6 separate regions of the Homo sapiens genome follow, and regions 2, 3, 4, 5 and 6 are each linked to region 1. The links come from fine-mapping of genetic effects on gene expression. A gene starts in region 1. Each other region holds a variant in brackets. All regions are shown on one strand. Distances are from middle to middle.

Region 1 (5,078 bases):
CAGTTCCTTTACTTAAGATTATTCTGAAATGAACCCATCCTTCCCTCTAATGGAAAGATAGGTACATAATAAGATAAGCACTTTTTTTATTTGAACAAATCCAGTATTAGAGTAGTCTTTTGCAGCTAGTGAATCATGACAGCCTGCTAAGAAGAATGCCTTCAGTAAAATAAAGTTAGGTTGGGACTGACCAACATGAATGCATAAAGTTAACTCCATTAAAAAAAATTGACCAGGAAAATAAAACAATGCTAAGCCAACCACTGTAATACCAAAAACGCTGCTAAAAAATTTAGATTGCTTCTGAGTAACCAAAGGTGAACCACTCTCCACCCTGTGGTGAACATGTGACACTCTCCCTAACAGCAGCTCTGTGGGGAGGGCTTGCTCCCACTGAGAATTAATTCACTTTCCAGAAGTGAGAGATAAGGAAAAATTCCCATGACAATAATCCATTTGGTGAACTGCAGTTTGGTGGTGTTTGAAGTTTTACGCATATTTAAGAATCAAACATGCTCTTACTTCATCCCTGTTAGGAAAGCCACAATCCAGTTTCACGGAAAATGAAAGACAAGGATTCCTGCTGATCAAATCGCCTGGCTCCCTCCACAGAATCCCGGGAAGCCACTCTACATTCACAAACTTTGCACTCAATTCTTGGCACCTATCAACGCCATATCTCCAGGGCCAAGTGAAGAGTCTCATAGCAACTAAGTTAATATTTGAAAATTATGTAAAGAAACAAAATTACATCAATGGGCCCCAACAGATACAATGCACCTACAGAGGCACAAATAAAAGCTTCTTCTTTGCTACAAACTCCATTTTGTAATGGTCCTAAAAATTTAAAAACTTTATTGCTGCTTTCTTGCCTAAGAATTCCCTGTGACATCAACCCAAAACCCACATAAGCAGAAGTACACAATTTTCTAGAATCTTAGAACAAGTAAGTCTAAACATGAATCATATTTGTTTGGATGAAATTGACTGAAATAAATAGTAAAGAGTGATTTTGAGATACATATTGCAAAAATGTCCACTAATAACTTATCCTTGTATTTATCTGTATATTTTCAAAGGTAAGTAATGTGATGTCAAGGCCGACACAATCACATTAAACTGTGTCCTGCTTCCCCAACTGTAACTCTAATACTATTGCCCTCAGAGATTGCAGAGACCACAGAACCGAACTCCTTCCCACAAACCCCCGGATTTTTCTGTGGCAAAATCCCTTGTAGGAAATGAATTCTCTCTATATCTCAAAACAGCCTCACTTACCCAGTAGGCCCTGTAAGCACAGTGTCTCAGGTCCACAATACTTTTAGATGCCCAGGAAAATGTTTCCTTTTAAAATAAGAACAAAAAAGAAAAAAATTAGGTGTTGGTTAAAGAAAATGTTTAAATATATAATATTAAGATATTTATCTTTATGTCAGTGTTGGTATAAATGCGTGTTTATGAAAAAGGGACCCACCAAGGTGAAATGCCGTAGGACCCACAAATGTCATAATGCTGGCTGGCCTCAAAATGTCCTTCCTATTAAACTATTTTGAATGATTCCTAGGTATGCCAGATGCCAATTTTTCTTGGCCAGCCAGGGAACGTCTCATGTCTTTGGAAGAAATTATCTTTCTCTTACTGGATTCTTCTGAGAAAAGTGATTTGTTAAAAGTTTTGGTTATTTCAAATCAATATGTACTCAACTAGGACGTCTCCTCACCCACGTTAATTTTTTAAAGAGGAGGAAAGTAGGAGAAGATGAGCGCTTCATGTAAGGCTCTGCCAGCCTACGAGGAAATGCAATCCTCCAGGCTCGCCCGAGCGTGGGCTGCGGGCAGGGGACTGTGGGGCCGTTGTCTCGTTTTATTCCACGGCCGTGCAGCAGAGGGCGCGTGCCTCTCAGCACTCATGCTGCGCGCTCCCCTGCGCCTCTAGGATCGTATCCCTATTTGCCCCAAGGTCATAGCTCCTAACCCAGCTTGCCAGCCCCAGGCCGGGGACACCAGAGACTGAGCCCTTCGCGCTGGAGACCCCGGCGCGGGTGGGGCGGGAGGGCTCCGGGGCCAAGAGACAGGTCACAATGGGGACAGGGGACGAAAGGCGCCGGGGGTCCGGGTCCCGAGCAGTCCCCGCCGCCGCCAGACTCCGCAGCCGGGAGGGGGATGGGGTGCGCGTAGAGGCTCCGCGGCCCGGGTTGGACGGAGGAGCCCAGGAGCCACCGCAGCCGCCGCACGCCCAGAGCTCCGAGCTTCGCTGCCAGCCCAGGACACCGGGGCCCTGCCGTGGGCCGAGGGGAGCCGGGCGGCGGGAGAGGAGCCCCGGAGCCCCGGAGCCCCGGAGCCCCGCCGGGCGCCAGCCGAGAGGGCGTTTTCCCCGCCCCCGGAGACTCGCCCGCCCGGCCCGCCCCGCCCCGAGCGCGGGGAGTTCACCTCCGCCCGTCACCACCTCCCCTTGTCGCCTAGGTCCACCCGAGCCCCCTCCCCCGGGCCGCCCCCGAGCACGAAGTTGGCGGGAGCCTATAAAAGCTGGTGCCGGCGCGACCCGCGGACACACAGTGCAGGCGCCCAAGCCGCCGCCGCCAGATCGGTGCCGATTCCTGCCCTGCCCCGACCGCCAGCGCGACCATGTCCCATCACTGGGGGTACGGCAAACACAACGGTGAGTGCCGGCGACGGCCAGCGCGGGGGCGCCCCGATCCCCGATCCCCGATCCCCGATCCCCGAGCCCGGATGCCGGCCCGGGGCCCGCAGCGCCCGCACATGCTGTTTACCGCGGCCGCGGGGAGTGCTGGAGGCTCAGGTGCGCCCCGGGCGCTCGCTCCGCTCGCGGCTCCGCGGCGCCGGGGATGTCCCCCTTGCCCCAGCTGCGAGGCCACTGTGGAGGAATCCCCGCGTCCGCCGGAGGCGCGTAGGGCCCGAGGGAGGGGAGGCGCAGCCCTGGCCGCGGGACCCGAGGACAGTCCCTCCCGGGTCCCGACCTGGGGATCATTTTAACCGGACCTAGGAGGAGGCGGGAAAGGGTTGTAACGGAAAATTCTAGTTGTTGATCGCAGAGAAATTAAGAGACTCCCCTCCCCCCTCCCCCACCTTCCACCCCCACCCCACCCCTCCAGCTTCAGCACCACCTGTGGCTAAGGCGCTCAGCACGAACTGTCCCGGGGCATTTTCCAGTGCTGGTTTGAATCCATGGCTCTGATTTCCGAGTTTTCCCTTCATCTCTCGACTTCTAATGTTAGGGGGTCGGACATCAGGAATCGGGTTTTATCTTGGCCTCAGATCTGGTTCTTCGGAGCCAGCGGAGCAGAGGAGCATGCGTCTGGCGCACCTAGCGCATCTTTGGAGGGTGTGGGGCTTCCCAGGTAGTGGGGAACCCTGACGGTTAAAGGTGGGGTGGGCCCGGGCCTGGGCAGTGAGGAAAGGATCCAGACCTCCTTGAATGTCTTAAGTGAGCTTGCATATCCCAAAATCGCAACCACAAGCCCTGACATTAGTGTCTGCCCGATTTCAGTTGCTGAATTTCAGTAAAACGACCTTAAAATAGCTAATATTTATATAGCACTCAGTGATCTAAGAGCTTTACATATATCGATTCTAATTCTTACAGCGACATCTATGAGGTAGATTTCTAATTATCCCATATTACAAATGTGGAAACTGAGGCACAGATTACGTGTTTTCCCAAAATTTAGCCCATTGTTAAGTGATGCTTCTAAAATTGGAACTGAGCAGATTGGCTCCGGAATGATTGCTCTTCTCTAGGGGTCTGGGTGTACCTTTCCCCACAATGGGGGATTCACATGTCTTCTTTCCCCCAGGACCTGAGCACTGGCATAAGGACTTCCCCATTGCCAAGGGAGAGCGCCAGTCCCCTGTTGACATCGACACTCATACAGCCAAGTATGACCCTTCCCTGAAGCCCCTGTCTGTTTCCTATGATCAAGCAACTTCCCTGAGGATCCTCAACAATGGTCATGCTTTCAACGTGGAGTTTGATGACTCTCAGGACAAAGCAGGTCAGTGTTTAGAAAATAACTTGTGTCTTTTAGCCAGTAGCTGTTTTCCGAGCTTAATGGAAGGAGCCAGGAACAGTGGCAGGAACCCTCTTAATAATACAGTTTGTCTCAGGACTCAAGGATGCCACCCTGATCATTTTCATTAGGTCTCAGATTCTGAGAAGTAGGCTAATTAGTTTGAAGTGTCCCGGGGCCGTTTCTTCCCTGTAAAACCCTTGGCTTCTATGAAGGCCATTGAATAACTGCGATATGCCTGTGAAAAATCACAAAAGGTGCAAAGTCCCCTCGCAATAAAGATCAGTCACGATGAGATTTGCACCAATTGAACTTTTAAGATTGTAAAATATTTTGTCTTGCAGAGCTGATGCATATCCATTAAAAAGTATATCTTAGTGAGCCTTATCTTCAAGTTAGCAGCGAGAAGAGTAACAAAAACGTGCCAATTTAAAATACTGAAATTCTGGGAAAATGTTTTACTTATGAGTATTTCTTAGTATTGGGCTAGTGTGATAAAGATGGCAGCATGTTTTGATATCTACTCAGAAATTCATTTCACAAACGAAGATGTTTTAGAGTTGGTGAACATACCTGGCCCATTACTGACAAAACCAATTACCGTATTTATTGGTAATAGAGCTGTTTACAGGATGCTCACTGTAAAAAAAAAAAAAAAAAGAAAGAGAAAGAAGAAAAAAAATCCTGCTTTTTTTTTTTTATCTCTCTCTCTTTTGAAACAAGAGAACAATCCCATTCACACATAGTAGCTGCCTTCTTTGCTAAGCAGTTAATTTAATTGCCAGTGCCCTATTTTCCTGAGTGCTTTCCTCTGAAGGTCATAGAATGAAATGGTGCTGCAAACACATTTTGTTTGGTGGTGGTGTGGGAGTGAGGGGAGTGGTGGAACAAAATGAGAAAGTTTTGGAGTAGTGACCTACGGTACTAATATATTATATAATATGTAATTATAACCATTTAGTCAGGTAGACTATTCTTTGTCAGCAGCTATCCTATATAGTCAACTTGGTTTTGAAAAAAGAATTCTTCCCTCCTTTCAACTTTAAAAAAA
Region 2 (5,078 bases), 400 kb after region 1:
TAAAAGCACTTTATGGGGCCTTCATGGCAATATTATCATTCAAGGGCATCCTTAAAAGTTAAACTTTTACTAGAAAACTATATAAATAAAGATGGGATCATTAAATGTTTTAAAGTACAAATTAACTAGCAAGATTTAAAAAATTTTTTAAATCGACCTAGGAATTCAGAAGTGGAACAGTAATCTACTTTAAATTGTTTTTTGGGGAAAAAAAAGTGTGATGTTAATGAATAAACATGCATTTAAAAAAAAATTCCAAGTACTATTAAATAGGCTGTACATGAAATCATGAAAGCAATTCTAAAAGAGAAACATTCCAAAAAATCTACATGTTTTAATATATTGTTAAGTTTCCATTATATGGTTTACCTTCCCTGTGGATCAGCAATAGACAAGTTGAAATCCTGAGCTGACTTTCTCATTCCCAACCCATATGCAGCCCACTTCCAGCTGTCTTTTCCATTTTACCTCCTGGTATGTGCCCTAGGGCCATAACCCGGCTTTAATGCCACCCAAGACACGTCTACTGATTTAAACAACAACCATCAACACCAACAAACATAACACGTAACCCCAAGATGTTACCCTTATTTCCCTAGATCAGGGCAATCACAGGGAAATATAAAGGGCTTTGTTAACAACCATAGTGGTATTAGCTGCAGCCCCACTGACTTTCATTATTTTGAGTTTAGATCCCATCATTTGAATATGTCCTCTAAATACATGTGTTGAAAACTTAACCCCCAATGCAGCAGTGTTGGGAAGTAATTGGGTCTGTAGGGGCAGAGGACTCATGAATAGATCAAGTTGGTACTGGAGGTGGCTAGGTATTGCAAGAGTGGATTGTTATGCAAGGGAGTCCACCCTTCATGCTCTTTCTGTCTTGCATGCTCACTTCTGCCCTTCCACATGGGATGAACCTTGCCAGATGCTGGTGCCATGCTTTTAGACTTCCCATTCTTCAGAACTGTGAGCCACATTCATGTATTTTCTTTATAATTACCCAGTCTGTGGTATTTGGCTATAGCAACACAAAATAAGACCAAGACATTTCTCCTGCACCACTCAGCCTGCCTCACTCAATGCTCAGTATAATGCTCAAGTATAAGCTTTCTTAAGATATGAAGTTCAAGTGTTAAATAATGTCAGATACCTCACTTAACACACAGTAATATACATTTTATGAGTATCATTATTTAATCATTTATTCACATATTCCAACAGACCACAGGTATAGCTATTGATTTTCTTCTTCAGTCCCAGCGTTCAGTAAATTTATTCATTTGATAAATACTCAGCTAGTCCCAGGCACCTTGGTAAGACAAATATTTACTCTGGTGACTCTGCCAATGATCAAAATATTTTCAGAACTTTTTTTTATTTGTTTTTTGGGGTCAGAAGTGTGTCAATTATATAACACCTTACATTCATGGAGCCAGTGCACAAACATTGTCACATTGTCTAATCTAGTCCTTATACTAATCAGGGGATTATCACAATTCATATACCAGGAGCACACTGCTAACTGTATCCCGCTCAATATATACTTGAAAGAATGACTTCTAAACACATTTGACAGCCGAAAATGGAGACTGGAGGGAAGTGAGTGACTCTGTTCACAAAGTCAACATCCAAGATGTAAGAACACAAACTTTCAACTTCTGACCCACAATTATTTTTTTCTTCAATACACCAGTATCTTCAACAGTGACAAATCGTTACCTTGAGGGAAGACTTGATATGTGAAAAACTCTCAAAATTCATCAAGAGTTAATTATAAGTATGGTGGGGAACCAAACTCGAAAATAGCAGGAAGATTGTATTGTTTTGTTTTGTTTTGTTATGTTTTTAATAAAATTGAGGCATTGATACTCAGGTAACAAACGAGCCATATTTTCTTGAGTGGCTTATGAAGTGGCTCTGTAGACAGTTCTGGGAAACTAGTTCTAAATATTTGTGTGCAGTGTCAGCTTCTCTAAAAGAAGCATGCAGGACTGTTTTAGAGGAGCAGGATGTTCTGTCAGAATGGCAAAGGGATCACAGTGAGTTTCATGAGTCTTGGTCTGTGGTCCAGGCTTGATCCTTCAAAAAGCATACACAGGACTCTTTGCATTTGTTGTTTACTTTAAAAAACATTAAGTAGAGCATGGGACCTGAGGTTTAACAACTATACAAACAAATATATATTTTTAAAACATTAAGCAAACCAATACAACTTATAATCAAACAAATCCAGACTCAATCCAGAACAAGGAATAAGAGTTGCATTATTCACCTAGAAACTCTGCCC[C/T]GGCCTTCCCTTTCACTGGATTGTAACGGAAGCAAGGAATGAGGCAGCTTAGTCTAGCCAGAGGTAATGCCACATAGAAGCCTGTCTAGTTTCTTTAAAGACCTTAAAGAAAATGGAATAAGCAACTGGGGCAAAAAGCACTGGTTGTGGTTTCCAGATAAGGGCTGCAGCCCTCTATCCTATCTGTGATGAGGCCAAGGAGAGAATGGTGCATACATTAAAACCCAGAGGTATCTGAGCTTTGATATCCTTGTGGAGCTGGCTGATCAGACTGAGCCATTTCACCCTCAGGGGTAAACACAATATGCAGATCGTATTTCCAGAGCATAGGAATGTTCAAATTCATAGACTTTTCTTTCTTAATTCTAACTTTTATGTTCATGGCTAAAATCTGACATACTCTCAAGGTTTTTACATCCCATAACTATCAAATAACACGAGCAATCTATGAACTGGCCATTTTACAGGGGGAAGGAAATCGCTTCTGGAAATATAAAAAATAATCTTTGACTCTTGGCATGTTAGTGTTCATTTGTTTTTTTCCTCAGGTCCTGTATTGGGAAGCTCTGTAACAGTGAACTTTCACATAACGATGGGGTTGTTAGAGGTTACACAGAGATAGTCGAGTGGCAGATAAATCACTGGGCCAGATTTTATCATCTCTGATCTGAGAAACTCAGAGAAGGAACAAGCATTTCTCAATATCAAGGCTGATACTGAAGAAAACGGAAGGATAACACAAAGCTAGATAAATACACAATAATAGTTATCATCTGGCAAAGCAGACTTTGTAGAGCCATGACCATGAAAACAAAGCAGCTCTTGAAAGTTAGGCTAAAGATAGATTAACACAGATCAAAGTAGGCTTAATTAAGAGCACTACCATGAAGAGTTAATTTGAGGACTAATTGAAAACTAGAGATGTTGAAGAGCCCAGATTAGCTCTATGAAAATCAGAGAAGACAACATAAGTTTCTTTTTTTTTTTTTTTTTACCTTGAAGTTAGTTTTTTATTTACAGAATACACCCTTATCCAAAATGTATCAACATGAGGCAGAGTGCTGTGGCTCACGCCTGTAATCTGAGCACTTTGGGAGGCCGAGGAGGGCTGGTCATTTGAGCCCAGGTCATTTGAGCCCAGGAGTTCAAGACAAGCCTGGGCAACGTGGCGAAACCCTGTCTCTACCAAAAACACAAAAAATTAGCTGGACATGGTGGCTCGTGCCTGTAGTCCTGTAGTCTCAGCTACTCGGGGAGCTGAAGTGGGAGGATTGCTCGAACCTGGGAAGTCAAGGCTGTAGTGAGCCATGATCACACCACCACACTCCATCCCGAGTGACAGTGCAAGATCCTGTCTCAGGAAAAAAAAATAGTATCATCATGCATGGTAAATGGAAACTTACAAATATTACCTAGTTAGGTTGGTCAGGATGTCTAAACTATCTTTGCAAATGATAATTGCTAACATTATTGAGTACTGTGATGTGCCACATGGATATATTTTCATCTCGTATAATACTCATAAAAGCTCAATGTGGTTTTAGTTACTCTTATTATTCCCATTTTAAACATGTGAAAACTGAGGCTCAGAAAGCTTAAGTAACTTCCCCAGTGTTCTAGTTATCCATTGCTACAAAACAAATCGGACAAATTTTTTTTTTAAATTATACTTTAAGTTCTAGGGTACATGTGTACAATGTGCAGGTTTGTTACATAGGTATACATGTGCCATGTTGGTGTGCTGCACCCATTAACTCGTCGTTTACATTAGGTATATCTCCTAATGCTATCCCTCATCCCTCCTCCCACCCCCTGACAGGTCCCGGGGTGTGATGTTCCCCTTCCTGTGTCCAAGTGTTCTCATTGTTCAATTCCCACCTATGAGTGAGAACATGCAGTGTTTGGTTTTCTGTCCTTGCAATAGTTTGCTGAGAATGATGGTTACAGCTTCATCCATGTTGCTACAAAGGACATGAAATCATCCTTTTTTATAGCTGCATAGTATTCCATGGTGTATATGTGCCACATTTTCTTAATCCAGTCTATCATTGATGGACATTTGGGTTGATTCCAAGTCTTTGCTATTGTGAATAGTGCTGCAATAAACATACGTGTGCATGTGTCCTTCTACCAGCATGATTTATAATCCTTTGGGTATATACCCAGTAATGGGATGGCTGGGTCAAATGGTATTTCTACTTCCAGATCCTTGAGGAATCACCACACTGTCTTCCACAATGGTTCAATAGTTGAACTAGTTTACAGTCCCACCAACAGTGTAAAAGTGTTCCTATTTCTCCACATCCTCTCCAGCACCTGTTGTTTCCTGACTTTTTAATGATCCCCATTCTAACTGGTGTGAGATGGTATCTCACTGTGGTTTTGATTTGCATTTCTCTGATGGCCAGTGATGATGAGCATTTTTTCATGTATGTGTTGACTGCATAAATGTCTTCTTTTGAGAAGTGTCTCTTCATCTTCTTCGCCTACTTGTTGATGGGGTTTTTTGATTTTTTCTTGTAAATTTGTTTGAGTTCTTTGTAGATTCGGGATATTAGCCCTTTGTCAGATGAGTAGATTGCAAAAATTTTCTCCCATTCTATAGGTTACCTGTTCACTCCGATGGTAGTTTCTTTTGCTGTGCAGAAGCTCTTTAGTTTAATTAGATCCCACTTGTCAATTTTGGCTTTTGTTGCCATTGCTTTCAGTGTTTTAGACATGAAACACTTGCCCATGCCTATGTCCTGAATGGTATTGCCTAGGCTTTCTTCTAGGGTTTTTATGGTTT
Region 3 (5,078 bases), 480 kb after region 1:
TGTTCAGCAAAAAAATAACTTCTGATTAATAAAAAGAATTAGCCAAGCATATCAGATTAGTACAGCACCGGAAGCCCATTGGCAGATTTGTAAGATTCTGAATAAGGAATCATCAATTATGACCTAGTCTATTAGGGAATCTCTGTGAAAAGAATTAAGGCCTATATGATAAAATATATTTCTAAATGTTCATTGATCAACATACAGAAGTCTGCTACATTAACAATATATTCAAGTTAGCCAACTCTTAAGGTTTCTCCATCTTCCAGAGAGTGACAATTGAATTTTGTGTCTATGAATCATTCTATGATTATGAATTAGTTTTGCATTTATTTTAATTTTGTAATGTGTTAATGTTTCAAAGCAAGAACTTTAACATGTAACAGGAGCTCTTCAGAATTACCTCATGAAGACTATTTTGGTTAATACTAATAAAGTCTGATATTTCGAAGATAGTTTCTCATCAACTGGCAGGCCTCATATTTCACAATTTCATGTTGACATATTGACTTTTATGTCTTAGTAGAGCTACAAATGCCAGTAAATGTGGCATCTGAAATAGAGGAAAGATTCTGTCTATTAAAATTCTTTGAATTTTTTTAAACATATAATGTTGGGAGTAGCAGGAAATAAGGAAAATCATAATTTCCAAATGATTTATCTTTAAATTCATCAATTCCAAATGATATATTTAAAAATAAATCATTTGGAAATGATGATTTTCCTTATTTATTGTCTCTTCCCTCACCAGAAACATGACTTGAATGGTCTTCTTTTCCAGGAAACAGATATAGAACTTTACATATATGGCATTCATAAGTTTCAGTGATTTGTCTTATTTCACTCTTCATTATAAGCAGAGATTCTCTCAACATTTGAACATATTTTGCTTTAAATTTTGTATTCATGATGAAAATTTGAAAGCTTTATTTCTCCTAATGTTTATTTTACTTATATTTCAAGTAAGAATCATGCCTATTAAATTTGTCTACCACTAGTTGACATACTTCAGCAGATGAGACTCTGCTATGATCCCATTGATCCCCAAATGGGAGTGGAAGACCAACTCTTGTTTCTCTGCAGCCTGTATTCTGGTCTCTATTAGCTATCAAAAATGTCTGTGCCTATTTCAAACTTAACATGTCCCAGCAATGATGTAGTTGATAAGTTTTCAAATAAACCATGAAATCATTATCTCTCTTCTTATCATAAAATTCCTTGTCTTTTCAACCATAGTTGTAAGTTGAAGAGGAGATTATAGAAAATAACTAGTCAAATTAATACTTTAAGAAATACTTTATTATTACTATTAACCAAATTAATCTTTGGGAGATAATTCTGAAGAACTTCTGTTATATGCTGAAGTAGCTTTAAAGTTTTACTTCATTACAACATTAAAATAAATGGGAAACTGCAGAGTGATTCATAGACACAAAATTCAATTATGACTTTCTATAAGATTGACAAACCTGAAGATTTGGCTAACTTGAACATATTGCTAACGTAGAAGCCTTCTGTATGTTAATCAACGAAACTTAGGAGTATATGTAATCACATTAGGACTTCATAGAAAATAATTAAGTCATCATTTCCCAGCTCCCCTTTGAAGACATTATATAAGTGACGATCTGTAGGTGTCCATGAATTTCACATGCTTTGAGATTCGTAAGAGTCCACTAAGGATGATGTTGAAAGCTGACAATTGTACTGGGGTGACTCAGTCTAGCCAGAGTTTTGATGCTGCAAAGTTGTATCTCAGAAAAGGAAATAAGTGCCTCACACCTCAAGTCAAACTTGTTTTACTTGTGCTCTACTTCCATGTTCAAAGATGTGTTCAATCATTTCTACTAGTTAATTTCTAAGTTATTATTTCTATAATAACAACAAAGAACAGAGGATTTCTTTTTCCAATAAATGGCAAATTAGATTCAGGCTAAATTTCTACCAAAAAAATTAAAAGACTATGTAAGATTTTAAAGAATATTATCAAAAGAATAAAATATTTAATGAAAAAGTAAGAGACTGCCAATCCAAAACCTAAAAACAAATGGGAATTCAGAGAAATAAATGGAACATTGAAGCTTCTTCTGCCTCAGGGGCATTTGCTGAACCCAGTATATTTGAATTTATGGTATTAGGTAGACGGAAGTTAAGCCCCAGAGTTCACCCAAGGTGGTAAACTGAC[T/G]GTGAGAGCTTCCCCACATCGAATTGCATGCCAGAAGGTTACATCTCATGGTAAAAGCAAAGCAAAACAAAACAAAACAAAACAAAAACAAACTATAAATAAGCATTCTACTCTCTGCCTCACACACACACACTCCTCAGGGGAACCTAGGAAAATTCTCATGGCACTGAGTAAACAGGAAAAGAGATAAGGCATAAAAAGTCCCTGAGATGTTATGGTCACCACAGCCATGTCCTGGTGCAGGAAGGCACCTTAATGCTAGGTCTTAAATAATCATAAAAAGTGATTAAGTAATTCAATTAAAAATTAGTCATTGAATAATCCACAATGAAAATTAACAAAATATACCAGAAGACAAGGCACCATGAAAAACAATCAGCAGAAACATTAAATCACCGAAACAAATCCCAAAATACTTAATTAACATTATCCAAACTATGAAAAAAAGTATTCCTACTCTGTTTAAAGATATAGAAGACAACTTAATCTGCAAAGAAATGAAACTATAAAAACAGGCATAACAGATTTGAAAAAGAGACAAATAATATAAAAGAAACAAAAAAATTTGAAAGGCAAATATAAAAAGTCAGGTGAGGGATTAAAGAACAAACTAGATACAGCTGAAGAAGATTTAGTGAATTGAAAGGTAAAAAATTAACCAGAATGCAGCACTGAGACAAGAAGATGGAGAACATGGCAGTTAACCAAGAGACATGAAGGATAAAGAGAAGGGCTAACATACTCTTAATCAAAGTTATGCAAGAAGACAAACTCAAGAAGAGTGAAGAAAACAAAGGCAAAAATTAAAGAGATAATAGCTGATAATTTTTCAGAACTCAGAGAAAACAGATTCAATAAAGGAAATTGCATTTAGATGTGTCATGGTGAAACTGCAAAACACCAAAGAAAAATGCAGCAATTTTCAAGCAGCCACGGGGAAAAAGCAGATCACCAAAAGAATGGCAAAGAGGTGTTTTAAGCACAATAATAGAACATGAAAGCCAGTAGAATGATCATTTCTATGTGCAGAAATACAATAATTGCCAATTTATGATTATATATCCATAAAAAATATCTTTGAAGAATTTGAATTGGCCAGGTGCTGTGCCTTACACCTGTAATCCCAGCATTTTGGAAGGCCGAGGTGGAAGGATCAGTTGAGCCCAAGAGTTCTAGACCAGCTTGGGTGACATACTGAGACCCCACCTCTACAAAAAAATAAGAAAATTAGCTGGGCATGGTGGCACACACTTGTAGTCCCAGCTACTTCGGAGGCTGAGGTGGGAGGATTGCTTGAGCCCAAGAGGTCAAAGCTGCAGTAAGCCATGATCATGCCACTACACTCCAGGCTTAGCAACAGAGCAAGACCCTGTCTCAAAAAAAAAAAAAAAAATAGAATTTGAATGCACTAAATACTTGTTATGAGACAAGCATTGTCAGAGTTGTTTTAAAGAAAGTGATATGTGCTTTACATAAAGATAAGTCTAAAGAAAATGATAGAAGTATATTATGCAATTCTAACAAACAACAAGGCAGACACAGCTATATAAACATTAGATAAAACTGGCTCTTAAGCAAAAAGCATTACCAAAGATAAAGTAATTTCATATAAATAACAGGTTCAATATTTTACAAAAATGAAACACTTTAAATTTATAAGCAAATAATAACATAACCTCAAAATATGAAAATCAAAAATTGACAGAAACACAAAGAGGAATAGATAAATATACAACCACATATTTTTGCTGTTGTCGCTAATGAGTTTGCTCTCCCCAACATTGACGAGGTATAATTTTCTTACAATAAACTGCATTCTTCATAGTGTGCAATTCAATGACTTTTAAATTTTATTATTTATTATTTTTTTGAGACAGAGTCTCACTCTATTGCCCAGGCTAGAGTGCCGTGGTGCAATCTTGGCTCACTGCAACCTCTGCCTCCAGGGTTCAAGCAATTCTCCTGCCTCAGTCTCCCGAGTAGCTAGGATTACAAACCTGCACCACCACGCCTGGCTAATTTTTGTGTTTTTAGTAGAGATGGGGTTTCACCATGTTGGCTAGGCTGGTCTCGAACTCTTGACCTCAGGTGACCTGCCTGCTTCGTCCTTTCAAAGTGCTGGGATTACAGTCATGAGTCATGGTGCCTGGCCGAATTCAATGAATTTTTAACAGATAGATACAGGATATCCTATCTCCCCCAAAACTTTTTTTATGCCTCTTTACGGTCCATTACTTTTTTCACTCTCAGCCTCAGGCAATCACTAATCTAATTATTTTTTTGTCACTATAGATTAGTTTGCATTTTCTAGAACTTTATGTAATTATTAGGTTGGTGCAAAAGCCATTGCGGTTTTTGCCTTTCAAAGTAATGGCAAAACCATGATTACTTTTGCACCAACTCAATAAATCATACAGTATGCACAGCTTTGTGCCTGGCTTCTTTCAGTCAGCATAAGGATTTCAAGAGCCATATATATTATTGTACATATCAGTAGGTATTTCTTTCATTTTGCTGAAAGGTATATTCCTTCGTATGGATGTACCGCAATTTGTTCATGCATTTGTCAGTTGATAGACATTTGGGCTATTTCCAGTTTTTTGCTATTGTGAATAAAGCTGCTGCAGACATTTGTATACAAGTCTTTGTGCCCCCTCTTCAGTAAACACGTAAGAGTAGAATGGCTGGGTCATATGGCAAGGGAATGTTTAATGTTTTATGGAACTTCCAGTTTTAATAAGTCACTCTATTATGTTGCATTCTCATAAGCAAATTATGGGAGTTCTAGTTGCATTATATTCTTAGATATTCTGATGTATTCTTATTCTAATTTTAGCTACACTAATCTTTATTAATATTTAATAAACACTTATGTATTCTAGATACAAATCTG
Region 4 (5,078 bases), 87 kb after region 1:
CAGATTTATCCTCAAGGCCACTATCTCGGATTTTGTTTTAGACAGGTCTATGTGGTCTTCAATTCACATCATTCTGGCAGAGAGACTATATGTGTGCTGCCTGTTTTTGCTTTCTGACCTGGAGTTCTGCAGATCCCAGGAGCTGGCAGGATCTTGCTTGGTTGTTGCATATGTGCAGCTTAGAACCTTGGGGGAAGTTAATACCCCTGAGGGCTACTCTTAGCCAATGAGGCCAGAAGCTGATGGAAAGTTCTCCATTTTCTGTCCCTCAGGTAGGAATTCTGGGAGGCATCCAGGACACTTTTTATGAGGTCCTTACAAAATTAAGCCCCAATGTCATAGCATTGGCATTCCTTAACACATACTTCTGTTGACTATTTCTCCTTCCCTGGCTCAAAATCCTCCCCACTCCTGCTCCCTGGGATCACCTCCCAAGTAAATTACCTGCACACAAATCCTTTATCAGATTCTGTTTTGAGGAGAACCCAACTAAGATAACAAGTAAGGGTTGTCTAAAAACTTATACACAAGTAACATTCTAATGAAATTTAACCGTGCTATACTGTGTATAAAATCATAAGTATGTTAAGTGGGACCCTAGAATGTATATCTTGCTGGGCAAAAAATAAATTAAAACTTCTAAATATGAATCAAACTTGAATGCATTATTCAAGCTTATAATATGAATTCACCTCTAACACCACCAATTCCTGGCTGTATGATACTAATCAAGGTTTTCAATATCATGGAGACTCTAATTTGATTATCTCTGTATAATCAAAGGTGTATCTCTGTATAATCAATCTAAGGGTGATAATATCTACCACACAGATTATGGATTAGGGATTATGAAATACCCTGTAAATCGTGATGAGAAGTTTCGATTATATCCTGAAGGCAACGGAGACTAGTAAATGGGTAGCACTGAAGAATAAATGATTAGATTCACATGTTAGAAGGATGGCTGACAATAAAGTAGAGAACAGATATCAGGGAGCCAAGAACAGGAAACTCTGAGGTTGTCATCAAGCAAGTGAGAGATGATGATGGTGACCTGAATCGGAGGAGTCAGGGTAGGCATGGTGAGAAGTGGGCAGATTTGACTGAGAACCTTATTTACCAAGTTGATGTTGGGAACAAAAACAGGGGAACCAAGATGGCATCCACATTTCTGTCTTGGGCCCCTGCGTGGATGGATGGATTTGCTGCATGAATGTGGAGCCATTCCCTGAGGGAAGAACACAGAAGGAGATAAGAAGGCTTGGTGAAGTGTGGTGACCTTGGGTCTATGCTTATTGAGTTGTAACACTTTGAAGTCAAGAAATACAATTGTGAGAGGGTGGGGCCAGACAAGTTTCTTTTGGGAAGTGACAGCTAAGATGTGACCTGATGAGTGAATAGGGATAACCCTGATGAAGATGAGAGCAAGTGTGGAAATAAACTTCCTTATGATCCAGCAATTCCACCTCTGGGTATTTATTAAAAAAAATTGACATCAGGATCTTGAAAGATATTTGCACTACTAAGTTCATGGCAGCATTATCCACAATAGCCAAGGGTGGAAACAACCTTAATGTCTACTGAAGGATGAGTAAATAAACAAAATATGATATATATCAAAAAATGGAATATTATTAAGCCTTAAAGAAAGAATGAAATCCTGCCATATGTGTCAATGAGGGCATTGTGCTAAGTGAAATAAGCCAGTGTGAAAGACAAATACTTCATTATTCCAGTTAGATCAGCTATCTAAAGTAGTCAAACTCATAGAAAAAGTTGAATGATAGTGGCCAGGGGCTGGGAGGAGGAGGAAATGAGTTACTTATCAATGGGCATAAAGTCTTAGTCTGGCAAGATGAATAAAGCTCTAGAGATCAGCTATAGAACATTGCACCTGTAGATAACAATACTGTATTGTGCACTCAAAAATTTATTTAAAGGGTAGAGCTCATGTTAAATGTTACCACAATTATAGAAAGAAATGAAGGTCAGTAAGGACAACAGGGTGCATACGCAGGGAATAAGGAAGTGGCTCATTATAATGCAAAAGAACTAAAGGCTGGCTGACTTTCAAAATTGCTAAGAAATATCCTTCATCCTTAACATGAAAGCAGGAGACTTAGCTTTGTGATGCTATCTGCATTTTTTTTTCCAATAATCTTGAATAAGTTATTTTCCCTAGACCCAGACTATTCTTTCCTGCCTTAACTGCTTTAAAAATATTCTTCACTCCCCAAACACCAGCACTGTAGTCCTCTTTCATGCCTTTCACTTCATAGCACTATTAAGCTGCCAAATACAGGCTACTGAGATGGAAATGGTATTCAGAATATTATCCAGTGACAAAAACAGTGACGTCCTTTACCTAGAAATTTTATTAGGAATTACATACCAACTGGAGTTCAGGTGTGGAACACTGAGAGACATCATCTTTGAATTAAAATTAGAGTTTGGTTTTGAAGTGGCTCTGTTGTTTAAAAACCACATCCTTTCAGAAGGACTCAGAGAAGCCCAAAAGCTTTTACCATTTTTTTCACTAACATAAAATATTTATAACACAGTCATTTATTTGGATCTCATTTTATTATGCTGCCCACATTGTTGATACCTATTGTAGACATTCAAGCATGTTTGACCCTTGGCTACTTAATAAATCAGGTAATAATGACAGGACACTGCAGTTAAGTTGTTAGAACAAATGCAGTCAGACAGACACTTAAGAGAGGGAGTAAAAGAAATCTCTTAGGTGGCAAAACTGCATGATGAGCTAAAGATTAGTTACCTGAAAAAGATTTGCT[G/A]ATAAGGCAAAGCATCTGGGATTCTTGTTCCCTGTTGTCTTAAATCTGCTACAAGTACTGTGGGATGCTGACATTTGATCTTTTGAGCTGGAGAGCATTAATATGCTAAGGCTTGAGAATCTGCATTGAATTTTACCCTAAACAAGCACTGCGTTGGAATTTTTTGTTGTTTTTATACTTAAAGATATTTAAACATTATGCATATACACACACATACATACACAGACATATATAGGTATATACACACATAAATATACACATACATAAACATGCATATACATACACATGCATACATAACCATATGCATACATATGGTTCCATGATTTCCAGGCAAACACCTGAAGTGGCTTCGACATATTTCAATAATATAGAACATTTTAATGCTAACTAATTTTAATGCAAGTTGATTTTTAAAAAGCTATTTGAGCTAATTGCTAGTCTGGGAATTTCTTAAAAATAATATGAACAATTCCAAGAGATCAAATTTAAAATTTAGAACCCCAACACATTTTTTAAAGGCATTATAATTTCTGATTCATAGGAATATTGTCAAGTTACAAACAAACTTTGTTTGGTTGACTTAAGTATGTAGTGTGATCTCTTGGCGTTTCTTATTTGCTTGTCCTATCTAGGTTTCCAAAGAGTTCCTTGATTTTGTCAATATTGGCACAGTCTGAAAGGTCATCCTGATACACTGCAGGTTTCATTACTGCTTGAGCTTGCTATTGTGAAATACATTTTCGTCCAGTAAAGGGTTTCAGATGGACACGTTTTCTATACATTTCACCATATTCCAACATATTCTGGCATAATTAAAATTATGTGGTGTCCTGAGGTGTAATTACATCTCACAGGATCACTGGTTTTTGTTGTTGTTGCTGTATTTTTAAAAACAATTTTGTTGGTGGTCAAAAGCTTTCTTATTTAAATAAAATATGTTTAGTAAGGATGCTTGTTCTTGACTCAACCCTCAATCCTCCCGGTCTTCCAAGGTAGTAAATGTTTTAAAGAGTGATTGTCTTACAGATTTTCATCTACTCAGTTATTATTTCCAAAGAACAAAATCTGATCCTGCAAGATTCCAAAATCTCCCTTTTCCCTTAGGAAACACCTTGGAGATGCATGGGCATCACATTAAGCTGCTTAGCATGTGTCTTGGGGATAGACAGAGATGTGCTTATTAGAGATACTGAAGATATTACACATAAAAAGGAGAAAATGGAATAAAATAAATGAGAGAATGAGATGTAGAGTTTATAATTAGAAATGGAAAAGAATTTAAAAATTGAAGACCATTCATTTAAGAAATATGTATTTTGTGTCTCCAGCTCGTAAGCATTCTCTTAGACGCCGGAGACACAAAACTGACACAAATCCCTGCCCTCTAGGTATGGTTAGGCTTAATGATATTTGTTCAGGCAGGACTGCGCCTCTCCTTTCTTGATTTTTTTATAGGGCTGTATCATTATATTTTTTATGCTTTCCACTTGCTGTAGTCAACATTTAAATCAGTAAAAGGCAACTTGGCCTGGGACAAAAGGTAATAGTTGTTTAACCTAAAATTCCTATCAAATTATTCAACAAAGTAGCACATATATTTGCAAGAGGAGCAGTGGCTTTATCTTGGAATATTTTTAAATAAACAGGGTGTCTGCACCAGTACTCTAGATTTTGAGGTTTATTATTAATAAGAATAAATATTTGAGTGTCAGTGTGTGGTCATTTGTATATCTGCAGAAGTTAGCATTTAAATGTAGCAGCTTGTTTTGTTGTTGGTTGGATAGTACACTCAGGCATGAGTATATATACATTATACAGTCCTGCCTCAGGCAGGACTGGAGACACATGATTCTAGAACAACATTTAGCCATTAGTACCTCATTAATCAAAGAAATGAGTTGCACACTTTGGGCCTCCTCTCAGCCCACTAGATCTATCTACCTACCAGATTCTAGATTCAACTAATTTCAAATTTTTTAAATTTTAGATATAATTTGTTCCAGAGGCTAGGCTATTGAAAATATATTTCTAATCCTAGGACTTGGATAACTTTCCCCTAAGGACAGGACATCTATATTAGTTCATTTTGTGTTGCTATAAAGGAACACCTGAGGCTGAATGATTTATTTTAAAAAAGAGATTTTTTGACTCATGGTTTTGCAGGCTGTACAAGCCTGGTGCTTGGAGCTGCTCAGCTTCTGGTGAGGCCACAGGAAGCTTACAATCATGGTGGAAGACAAAGGGGGAGTAGGCCTGTTACACAGCGAGAGAGGGGCAATT
Region 5 (5,078 bases), 510 kb after region 1:
GTTGTTTTAAAAAGACCTAAGATCAAATCAGAGATACTAAATCCAAGACCACTCAACAACTTAGGTTGTGTGAAGCATCTTATTAATAGGTCTCACTCATTTGACCTGGGAAGTCAATGAAATAGGCAGCAGAAATTAAAAAGATGTCATCCAGACCTTGGAAGATAAGGCATCCAGTGGATTTTATGCCATCAAATACCACCCATTTCCTTTAGGGTTCGAAGGTTTCACAACTACGTGACTTCCTTTTAACCAACAGTAAGCAAGAGACTAGCTATCTTATCTAAGCGCTCAATCACTGGGGCTGTTCTTTTTCCTCCGCGTAAGAATAGGCTGCAGGAAATAGGTGAAAGGAAATAATTCCATATTAGCATACCCTAAGGAGCATTTTAGGAAAGCTCACAGAAATTTCTTTTGCTCTCCATAGGCTGACAACTGCAAGCCTTATCTACTAGATGATTTTTTCAAGAATTGGTGTGTTAGGTGTTTCCTTGACTAGCCAGTGTTTTGTGTGTTTGTTTTTTAGTTATATTTTCCTTATGCAAGTAATTTTGAATTGTCATCATTATTTGTTACTAACTCCTAATCAATGGCATTATAATAAAGTTATGATGGACACAGTGAGCTAATTACCTGGTTTAATACCCAGCACTGTAGACATCAATCTTCTGCATTTTGGAGGATCTGAGTGAGTTATAGTGATATGTGATCCCAAGAGACTGCAAGCTAAGAAAAAACCTTCCATTTTTGGCCATGTCATAGAACCCAGCACTTATTTTTTTCTCAGAAAAGGGAGCATTTCTAACATAGCCAGATTCACTGGATGATGTGCCCTGGCTCTTGGAACACTCATTTTCATTTATAGACCAAGTTTATTTCTTTGAAGATTTAAGATACAGAAGTGGCTCTACAGAGCATCTAAAGATCCTCTTTTTCCTTTGACTTCTATCTGCAACACCCAGGTACCTGGTGCTGAAACTATTCAGTGCTAACTGAAACCTTACATAATCTTTTTCATTTTTCCTGAAACATCAGCTTTAAAAGGACATACAGAGCCTATTATTGACCATTTTTCTTGGAAATAAAGCATTTATTCTGATATAAAATGACTGATGACACTACAATCAAATGTTCTTTGTATTTTCAGTTAAGGATTGATTCCTTTCTGGGACTAAAACTCTTTTCAGAGAAATGAATAACCATTTATGCACCATTTACATATCCTAAAAACTTGTACTGAATATTTTCTATCTTCTGTACTAAATTATAGATTATCCAGCACAACTCAGGGCTGGCATATTTACTGACCCATTTATGAAGGGATTGAGATGAGGTTGACGATTAATTAATTGGGAGATGGCTCTATTCAATCTTTAGAGGTACTAAATACAAATAGTTATCAAATAGATTTACCTGAGAAAAAAAGTTAAGAAAAGAACTTCTCATATGGTGAAAAGTAATACATTAATCTAGAAATGCACATTAGTACCTATAATCACATCACCATCTTTTGCCTCAAAACAGGTTCTACATGAGTTGAGAAAAATACAATGTATGGTAGTACTCTCTTGTGCAGTACCTAATTCCAATTACCACCTCATCCTTGTACATAAATGAAGTTTTGTTTTCTTACCCTTTCAGCAAACATAATAATGTTTCCACATAATCCTGATTCTGGAAACAGAACATAACTCTCTTTTAGACTCAAACAGGAGAGTGTATATGTACATATGTGTGTTTCTGGGTATAAGCACTCATACTGTTCTCTTTTTCTTTAGAGATCATAAAGAAGTCTGCAAAGAGTTTTTGGTGATCTATTTCATTTTGTAGAGGAAGACATGAAAGTTCAAATACAATAAATGACTATTGGTTTTAAAATTTATTCTCAAGGGATTTCCCAGAATTTTCTGGTCCTATTCATTGAACTATCTGGAATTTTAGAATATCATAATAATTGGTTGTATGATTACTAGAAAGTGGTAACTGGCTATTCATGACCATTTTATTACAAACTAATTGAGGAAAATTAGGAAGAAATAACAATTTGCAGATTCTGGCTTGTTCTAGAAAACACACATTAAAATTAAAGGACACACTTATTTGGCTCATTGGAATTGGTTCCTCAATATCTTTTTCAAAATGCCACTCCTGGCTGCAACTATGGGTAACACAGTTTTCTGAGAAAACAAACTCTCAGACAGCTTTTGACTATGATTCAAATTTTCTTTAACTCATATTAAGTAGCTATTAGTGTTTATTCTGAGAGGAAAAAAAAGATGGAACTCGAAACCCAGGCTCCAATAGTTAGCAAGTCACTGTTTAGGGTGTTACTATCTTCAACTGAGTCCAAATTCCACATTCACCTTTCTCTGCTCAATTTCTCTTCTTCTTGTTTTAGGGTAATTCCTCTCAAGTAGAGATTGGGGGTATTTGTGTAACCCATGCACCATCTAGTGGGAACAGATGGAAAATCCATCTAGAAAAATAACTTGTGATAGCCCTCCTGAGGCCACTGGCGAAGTATAGTTCTTTGCCTTAGAGACTATGCTTAATAAGATACACTATTT[CTT/C]TTTTTTTTTTTTTTTTTTTGACAGTGATCAGAATGAGACATTTTATTTTATTTTATTTTATTTTATTTTTATTATTATTATACTTTAAGTTTTAGGGTACATTTGCACAATGTGCAGGTTTGTTACATATGTATACATGTGCCACGTTGGTGTGCTGCACCCATTAACTTGTCATTTAGCATTAGGTATATCTCCTAATGCTCTCCCTCCCCGCTCCCCCCACCCAACAACAGTCCCCGGAGTGTGATGTTCCCCTTCCTGTGTCCATGAGATACACCATTTCTTTTAAAGAATTAAACTATTAGAAATTATTTTTGATAACCTTGGAATTCTTGTTCATACTTATCAAATAGATTTTCTATGGCAAGAATTAGTGTCCCTTTATATGTTGGAATTCACTGGGGATAATTCCTATTGTGTTTTAAGTCAGTTAGTAATCACTGCTCATTTATACCCTTGCCAGAGCTAGTGTGGTTCAGGGATTAATGCTTGGACTATGGGGTCAAACTAGCTGGGATCAAATTTATGGCTTTGTTTCCTATTACCTAAAAGAGCTCTGGCAAAATCACCTACCCCTCTGGCGTTCTGTAAACCTTTTCTGTAAAAAGGAGTTAAAATTTTAAAAACTGCATGTTAAGCACTTACAAAAATACTCAACACATATTAACTCTTCAATAAATGTTAGGAATTATTAATGATTATGAAACAAGATTACGTTATTATGATTACAGAAAAACATGTAACACTTTTATATCTACTCAGTTCTCCATCAAGCCAATGTAAAAAGCTGAAGCTTGTTCCACTAATACCACAGGCCTGTAATTAGCTATGGTTGGCTGCTCCCAGAATAGATAGAATTGACAGTCCCATGGGAATTTCAAAGGGTCAACATGGGCCACTGGAGCCTACTTATGACTCAACAGCAGTGCCTCTTTCAGACAATGGATATGGAGGGGGTGTTGGCAGAATGGAATTTCTGTCCCCAGTGGAGGTGGACCCAAAACATCTCCTCTTTCAATCTTTTAATGGATATTGGCCCATTCTTGAATTTTTCACCAAACAATTTTTCTGCTTCATGCTGGTCTTTCTTCAGCCAGTCCACTGTTCATTAGCTGGACAGCAAACAAGGGAGAGTGATGTTAAAATACATTCTAATTTGCTTCATTATCCTGGTTTCATAAGAAGTCAGAGGGAAGGAAATATTCATCACTGTTGAAATCACCATGCGTTGCACAAGGCTTCTTGAGAAAGAGATGTACAGTATATAAGAGCTGATTGATGGAAGGTTAAAGGAGCAGAATGCAGGTGCTACTAAAAGAATTAAGACACAGGACTGATGACTCAGGGAAAGGTACCCAGGCAGTTACAGGGAACATGTGAGCACTGACTGCCTGGGCATGAAAGACCTTGGCAAACTCTGTTATATTTTATCTCAGCCTGAGGCTGGCCATTGATAAATTGTGTCTAAAACATACTCTCAGTGTCCATGACTACCCTCCACTACAAACGACATTGGCTCCTTGCCCTCCTGTTTATTAAAAAAAAATTATTGAGCATCTGCTTCATAACCATCAGTAAGTGATGTCTTCATACATAGAGAGTAGTGAGCTACTAGTAATAAGTCAATGACCAACTTTCTTCTGTTCACTTTCTTAGTTGAAATATTATCTATGCATTTCACCTACTATGTACTAAAAACATCTGTGAATAACTCATTGGGATTCAGTGACCCAGATGGACAAAGTGCCGGCTCTCAAAAAGCTTAGATTCTAGTGGTGGGAAATAAAATAAACATGAAAAACAAACAAGAAAAGGACTAGATAGAGTGTTAGTACTTTGAGTTGGGTGGTCAGGAACTAACTCTCTGAGAAATGCAAATTTACTCTCAGATCTGAACAGTAAGTTTAGCCAGTCATATAAATATTCTTCCAGCAGAAGGAACAGCTAGTGCAGGAGAAGGAAACATATTTGACATGCATAAGAAATAGAATTCTCCAGTTGAACATGTTCTCCATTTCACCTCCTGGATTTTCTACCGGTTTTCCATAAGATGGGACGATTTTCAGCTAGCATTCTCTTGCAAGTTGGATAATTTCCTGCCCTGTTCTGAAAATGACACCAAAAAGAGTCCAAGTAAGACCTTTCTCAAAATTGCTTTATATCCAGAGCAATAGCCTAGAAAAAGCATGTCATTTCTTTAACAAAGTGTTGGGGGTTTGTTAAGGTTCCATTCATGCTGAACACTTTATACGCATGACCTCATTTAGGCTTCACATCACTCTTATGATAAGGGAAAAATATTATCTTGCTATTATAGATAACTACAGCACACAGTTAGTAAGTGGTAAAGCTAAGATTCAAACTCAGGTTTCTCTGGAGCTTCCTCAAAGAATGCAGAAGCAGAGGAGCCTATGAGTAGAAATGACACTACTCAGAAGCAAGCTTCTACTTCTGCATACTGTGCAAGTGACTAAGAGGTTAATGGAATCTCCAGCTGTGCCTCTATGA
Region 6 (5,078 bases), 56 kb after region 1:
TTTTCCATTCTACCTGTGTGATAGTAAGCATCTTACCCCATGAGTCTCAATTGCCCATCTATAAAATAGAAACAGTAATAATACTTTCCTCACCACATTGTTATGAAGAGCAAATGAGATACCATAGGAAGAACTTGGTGCAGTGGCTGGCATGTAGTAGGTTTTTTTTTTTTTTTTTTTGAGTTAGATTCTCATTCTTTCACCCAGGCCAGAGTGCAGTGGCAGGATCATGGCTTACTGCAGCCTCAATCTTCCAGGCTCAGGTGATCCTTGTACCTCGGCTTCCCAAAGTGCTGGGATTACAGGCATGAGCCACTGTGCCCAGCCTGTAGTAGCTTTTCAATAAATGTTTGTGGAATCTGAATCTGAATCGTATAATTTTTCCTATTATTCTTAGACTAAGATTGGAGAATTAGGGCCAAGTGTGGTGGCTCATGCCTGTAATCCCAGCATTTTGGGAGGCCAGGGTAGGAGGATGGCTTGAGCCCAGGAGTTCGAGAGTAGCCTGGGCAACATAGCAAAACTTCTTCTCTACAAGAAGTACAAAAAATTAGCTGGGCGTGGTGGCCCACGTTGGTAGTCACAGCCACTCGGGAGACTGAGGTGGGAGGATCGCTTCAGCTGGGGACGTCGCTGCTGCAGTGAGCCGTGATTACACCACTGCACTCCAGCCTGGGCAACAGAGTTAGGACCCTGTCTCCAAACAAAAACAAAACACAGCAAAACAAAAAACAAAGATTGGAGAACTTTAAAAAAATATTGCGTACTTTAAATCTGAAAGTTCTTTCATAGCCTTATTATAAATATGCATTGTTAGAGACAGATGCAAACCGTTTTTATTTTTTTTTGTACAAGGCATATAAGAAAGAATAAGAATAAATTGTAACTTGAATTACAACATTCAAGACAAACTATTCTTAAATGTATTGGAAAGAATTACGTATTCCCTGGGTTCTTAAAAAGGGTACAGTTTTTCAACTCTTTTTTTCTGTTATGCATTGCATTGGGTTACGATCAGAGCAATTTAAATGATGCAGTCACATTTTCTATTTAAAGTAATAAGGTTCAAATCTCTTAGAAATAAAGCAAAGCAATATAGCCATACTGCTGGTAATAACACTGATCAATTTGATCTTACAAATATGAAACGAGTATGCCAGCATATCATGTAGCATGTGCCAACAATTCTGTAGTTATATATAAATTTGTACTGTTATTTGTTTTAAATTTATGCTCCTGTCTGTTTCTGAAAGGACTTGAGACAGTGTATAAATATACGCATGGTTTAAATTTACAATGATACACACTCATAACATAACTCAATAAATCCCACAAGAAACCTAAGTAACTTTTGTCTATCAGTTTCTGGGAAAGGTCTGCTTGTTTTCTTGAGGGAAAAAATAGACTCAACTTCTTCTTATTCATTGTTGTTTCCTTGGAGCTCTCTTAGGGAACCTATAGCTATCTGGGTTGTGGCTCACCAACCCATGTGATATGAGAGAGCAGAGGACTTTTATTAAACTCACATGTACTGTTGAAATCTTGACGGGGTACATTGTTAACATGGATCTGATATCAGTGAATAATATTTTAGGATTATAGATCTGGAATAGGTATATTTAAGAAATAGATCTAGAATCCTATACTTGCCTAGAAGTAAGTTGCCACCATAACTTTTATGGCAGAAAATGACACTCCAAATGATGATTTTCCATTTTCCTTTTGGTAAAATGCTTTTACTAAATAAAAGCAGAATTGTGCATCTTTCATTCATTACTTCAGCCATTTATTAAACAACTCTTTATTGGATATTTAGTACATGCAGAGCAACGGGAAACACACTGAGGATGTAAAGATGAGTACAACACCATCCCTGGCCTCAGGGAGTATTTTATGTGGTTGGGAATGAGGATGTAAATGGACATTTAAAACATAACCTACTCACAGCCAGGCGCGGTGGCTCACGCCTGTAATTCCAGCACTTTGGGAGGCTGAGGTGGGTGGATCACGAGGTCAAGAGATCGAGACCGTCCTGGCCAACATGGTGAAATCCTGTCTCAACTAAAAATACAAAAAATTAGCTGGGAGTGGTGCTGCATGCCTGTAGTCCCAGCTACTCGGGAGGCTGAGGTAGGAGAATCGCTTGAACCCAGGAAGCAGAGGTTGCAGTGAGCCGAGATCGCGCCACTGCACTCCAGCCTGGTGACAGAGCGAGACTCTGTCTCAAAAAACAAACCAACAAACAAACATAACCTGCTCAGTTCTGTGAGAGCAGAGGAGGAGCACTTCATACAGATGACGACTCAGGGCCCCTAAATGAAGGAATATCTGAAGAATAAATAGACGGTGTGATTAGTTTTCACCCAAAAGGGGCATTCTGGACAGTCATTCCAGTTCATGCAACAAGTTCAACATATTATGATGGCAGACAGAGAAATTGGAGTCAGTTTTGAAATGTTCACCTAAGTCATGCTAAAGTGATGGCTGTTACCCTGAAGTCA[A/G]TGAGGAACCTCTGCAGGATTTCAACATGTTTAAAATTGAGTTTTATAAATATTTTCCCCGACTAAAGGTAGATAGTATGCAAAAATATACTGGTGTTGGGACAGTCAATCACAGAGCTGCAAGGGGGAAATAACAGAAATCCTAAATAAAATAATGCTGCAGAGGTGAAGATTTATTAAACTCGATTCTACTGTATGGGAAACAAATCTAAGATTATTCATTAGGCAAAAGCACAAAAGAAGATTACATTCCTTTACATTGCTTCTCATTTTGTGAGATTGCTCTCCTGTCATTAACGCCGTCACGGCCTAAACTCAACAATTATCAGACAAAAAGGAGTTCCTGTTTTGTCCTTTTCAGGTATTATTTCACAGCTTTGCTCTCTTGTTAACCTAAGCACTATGGCTCTGAAAAACCAAAACCATTAATGCTTTTTTTTTACTGAATTCCCACGAGGCACTGAAAGATGTGATGCTCTGAAAAACTATGACAGGAAGTCACTAAAGACCATATTTTTGCTTAAGAAATTAGGACTAAATCTAATAATTATGATTAAAAATAGAAAAACCATAAAGAGATATATGGTGTTAGGAAAGAGAGTGATCTTGTAGTTAACTTCAAACTAATGACCAATTTATGCATATAATTATTTTCAGCTCTTAATAATGTTCTCAAAAGTTGAGGAGTTACTGAAACAAATGGACAAAATGCTGATAATTATGGAAACTGGATGGTGTATAAATGAGGGTTCACTATACTATTTTTTCTACTTTTGGAAGTGTTTGAACTTTTCCATAAAATGAAGTTTTAAAAAAGTATTTTGATAATATTGTGTGGTGAGTATCCATAACTGGAAAATAAAATTTATTTTAATTTGATTATATTACTTGATCAATTTATTTAGCTTCTGGATTTTTGAGTCTGTGAAATTTACTTGGTAAGCTTCCATTATAAGACTCTATCTAAGGTCTTAAAAACACTCCCCAAAATCTCTTCCTACAGAAAGTAATTTACAGTAAGGATACAGTGAGCTTCAATTTAAGATGATAATACAAAACATAATCATTTTCTGTCTTAGTAACTTGCTTGAAGCGAAGTCTTTTGTGGATGAGATAGTCATTGACTTAGTGGAAAACACCATTTTACATTTACATATTTATTTAAGTTCCAACTTGTTTCAAATTATTTGATGTGGCCCATGATATATACTAGAGTAATCTCTTATCCTAGAAGAAATGTATTTCCCAAAATAAAATAATTGAACCCTAGAGAATAATTTTCACAAATAACTAAACATATAATTGCATTTCACATTTTGCTTACTAATGAAATTTTCAAAATGGTAAAGATTTACTTCTAATGTTTTTTAGGTCAAAAAGGCTTACAGAAAAATTCAAAATGAAAGTTGGTTTAATTAAGATCAAGAAGGAGAAGATGGTGTGAATTAAATTTTTTGTCAGAAAACATTTCAAATACAAACTAAATGACCTAAGAATTGTAGACTCAGTAGTAGATAATATAAATGACCATCCCGAAACAGATTCTGCAAGTGGTAAGCCTTGTTGTACACTGGAAGAGAGAGATAAATGACAAGCCACCTTCTTCTTGAGGCCTGGAAGATTCAAACAGCAGTTCCCCATTTTCCAAATTTATTATCAGGAATAAAAGCAATATTGAAATAATGCCCAAGCCATATTTAAAAAAGATCTCAGCACTGATGATAAATTGATCAGGCTTCGAATAAATTGTGAGAATTTTTGTTTGGCATTCAGAAAGCATTTCTTATAGAAACAATTTTTCATATGGTGGTTTGGACCCCGGAAAAACCCACAAACCTCTTTAGCATGTTGTATGTTTGCAGTATATACGGACAATGCTAAAGGTGTACAATGCCACTGTACTGCAATACTCTCCTTTTACCCTAGGAGTAAAGCTCAAATCCCTTGCCCTATCCCATGATGTCCTTCATGAGGCATCCTCTGCCTCCTTGCAGACCTCACCTCACACCACTCTCCCCTAACTGTCTGTGCTCCAGTCACACTGGTCTTCCACAAGATTCTTGAATAAGTCAGACTTATTCTCACCTTAAGGCATTTGCCTAAGTTGTTTTCTCACTTAGAATGCAGTTCTCTGACTCCTTCTCCTCCAGACATTAAGAAAAATGTCACTGGGTGCACCTGCTTAGTAGACTCAGCCTAGCTACTGACACCTACTGAAACCTACTCTGACACCCAGTGTAGATTAGCCACCTAATCATTCTATTAAACATGTTATCATGTTTCCATTCTTTGCATAGCTCAAAAAAAAAAACCTACCACCTGATATTCTCTTGTTAATTTCCTTGTGCATTCTATGTGTCCCCAGCTAATAGGTAAGTTTCATAAGAGGGAAAGTCTTGTTCAACATTGCCTTCAATAGCCTGAAACAGTGACTGGAAATAGAAGATCTTCAACGCATGAGTGAATGAATTAAAGAATAACTCTACAGGACTACTGTATGCAGTAATAGAGACTCTAGCTGACGTCACTGGAATATTTGCTCAGATTTATGCCTCAAGGAGATAGGTGTACATCTTC

Which allele goes with the higher level. Positions count from the first base shown, and alleles are read on the strand shown. Sizes are in standard deviations (SD) of each study's normalised expression. Not every link is listed here.
As copies of CTT replace C in region 5, the expression in prefrontal cortex of the gene that starts at base 2,550 in region 1 goes up (moderate effect, 0.42 SD a copy in ROSMAP).

Evidence for each region. PIP is the estimated chance that this variant, and not a neighbour inherited with it, causes the effect.
Region 2: its variant is fine-mapped to the expression of CA2 in whole blood (INTERVAL, PIP 0.94).
Region 3: its variant is fine-mapped to the expression of CA2 in whole blood (TOPMed, PIP 0.91).
Region 4: its variant is fine-mapped to the expression of CA2 in whole blood (TOPMed, PIP 0.92).
Region 5: its variant is fine-mapped to the expression of CA2 in prefrontal cortex (ROSMAP, PIP 0.95).
Region 6: its variant is fine-mapped to the expression of CA2 in whole blood (TOPMed, PIP 0.91).

The regions. Positions count from the first base shown.
Region 1 is chr8:85,461,458-85,466,535 of GRCh38, forward strand. It overlaps CA2 (carbonic anhydrase 2), which reads left to right and starts at 2,550. Exons shown (of 7, transcript NM_000067.3): 1 at 2,550-2,658; 2 at 3,815-4,012. The coding sequence starts at 2,625. CA3-AS1 (CA3 antisense RNA 1) reads right to left here and starts at 3,458. Exons shown (of 3, transcript NR_121630.1): 1 at 3,125-3,458; 2 at 1,279-1,344. RefSeq lists enhancers at 63-758, 2,659-3,158 and silencers at 1,786-2,045, 2,116-2,435, 2,546-3,015.
Region 2 is chr8:85,864,345-85,869,422 of GRCh38, forward strand. No RefSeq gene overlaps it. Among named protein-coding and RNA genes, the nearest start is that of LINC02849, 12 kb to the left of the region's middle. The variant C/T (reference allele first, on the strand shown) is at 2,291.
Region 3 is chr8:85,942,511-85,947,588 of GRCh38, forward strand. No RefSeq gene overlaps it. Among named protein-coding and RNA genes, the nearest start is that of LINC02849, 90 kb to the left of the region's middle. The variant T/G (reference allele first, on the strand shown) is at 2,186.
Region 4 is chr8:85,548,564-85,553,641 of GRCh38, forward strand. No RefSeq gene overlaps it. Among named protein-coding and RNA genes, the nearest start is that of CA3-AS1, 86 kb to the left of the region's middle. The variant G/A (reference allele first, on the strand shown) is at 2,799.
Region 5 is chr8:85,971,114-85,976,191 of GRCh38, forward strand. It overlaps LOC107986954 (a long non-coding RNA gene), which reads right to left. Exons shown (of 4, transcript XR_001745984.1): 4 at 2,680-4,676. Among named protein-coding and RNA genes, the nearest start is that of PSKH2, 96 kb to the right of the region's middle. RefSeq lists a silencer at 233-433. The variant CTT/C (reference allele first, on the strand shown) is at 2,568.
Region 6 is chr8:85,517,672-85,522,749 of GRCh38, forward strand. The region is part of intron 3 of LOC105375937 (a long non-coding RNA gene); the gene reads left to right. Among named protein-coding and RNA genes, the nearest start is that of CA3-AS1, 55 kb to the left of the region's middle. The variant A/G (reference allele first, on the strand shown) is at 2,502.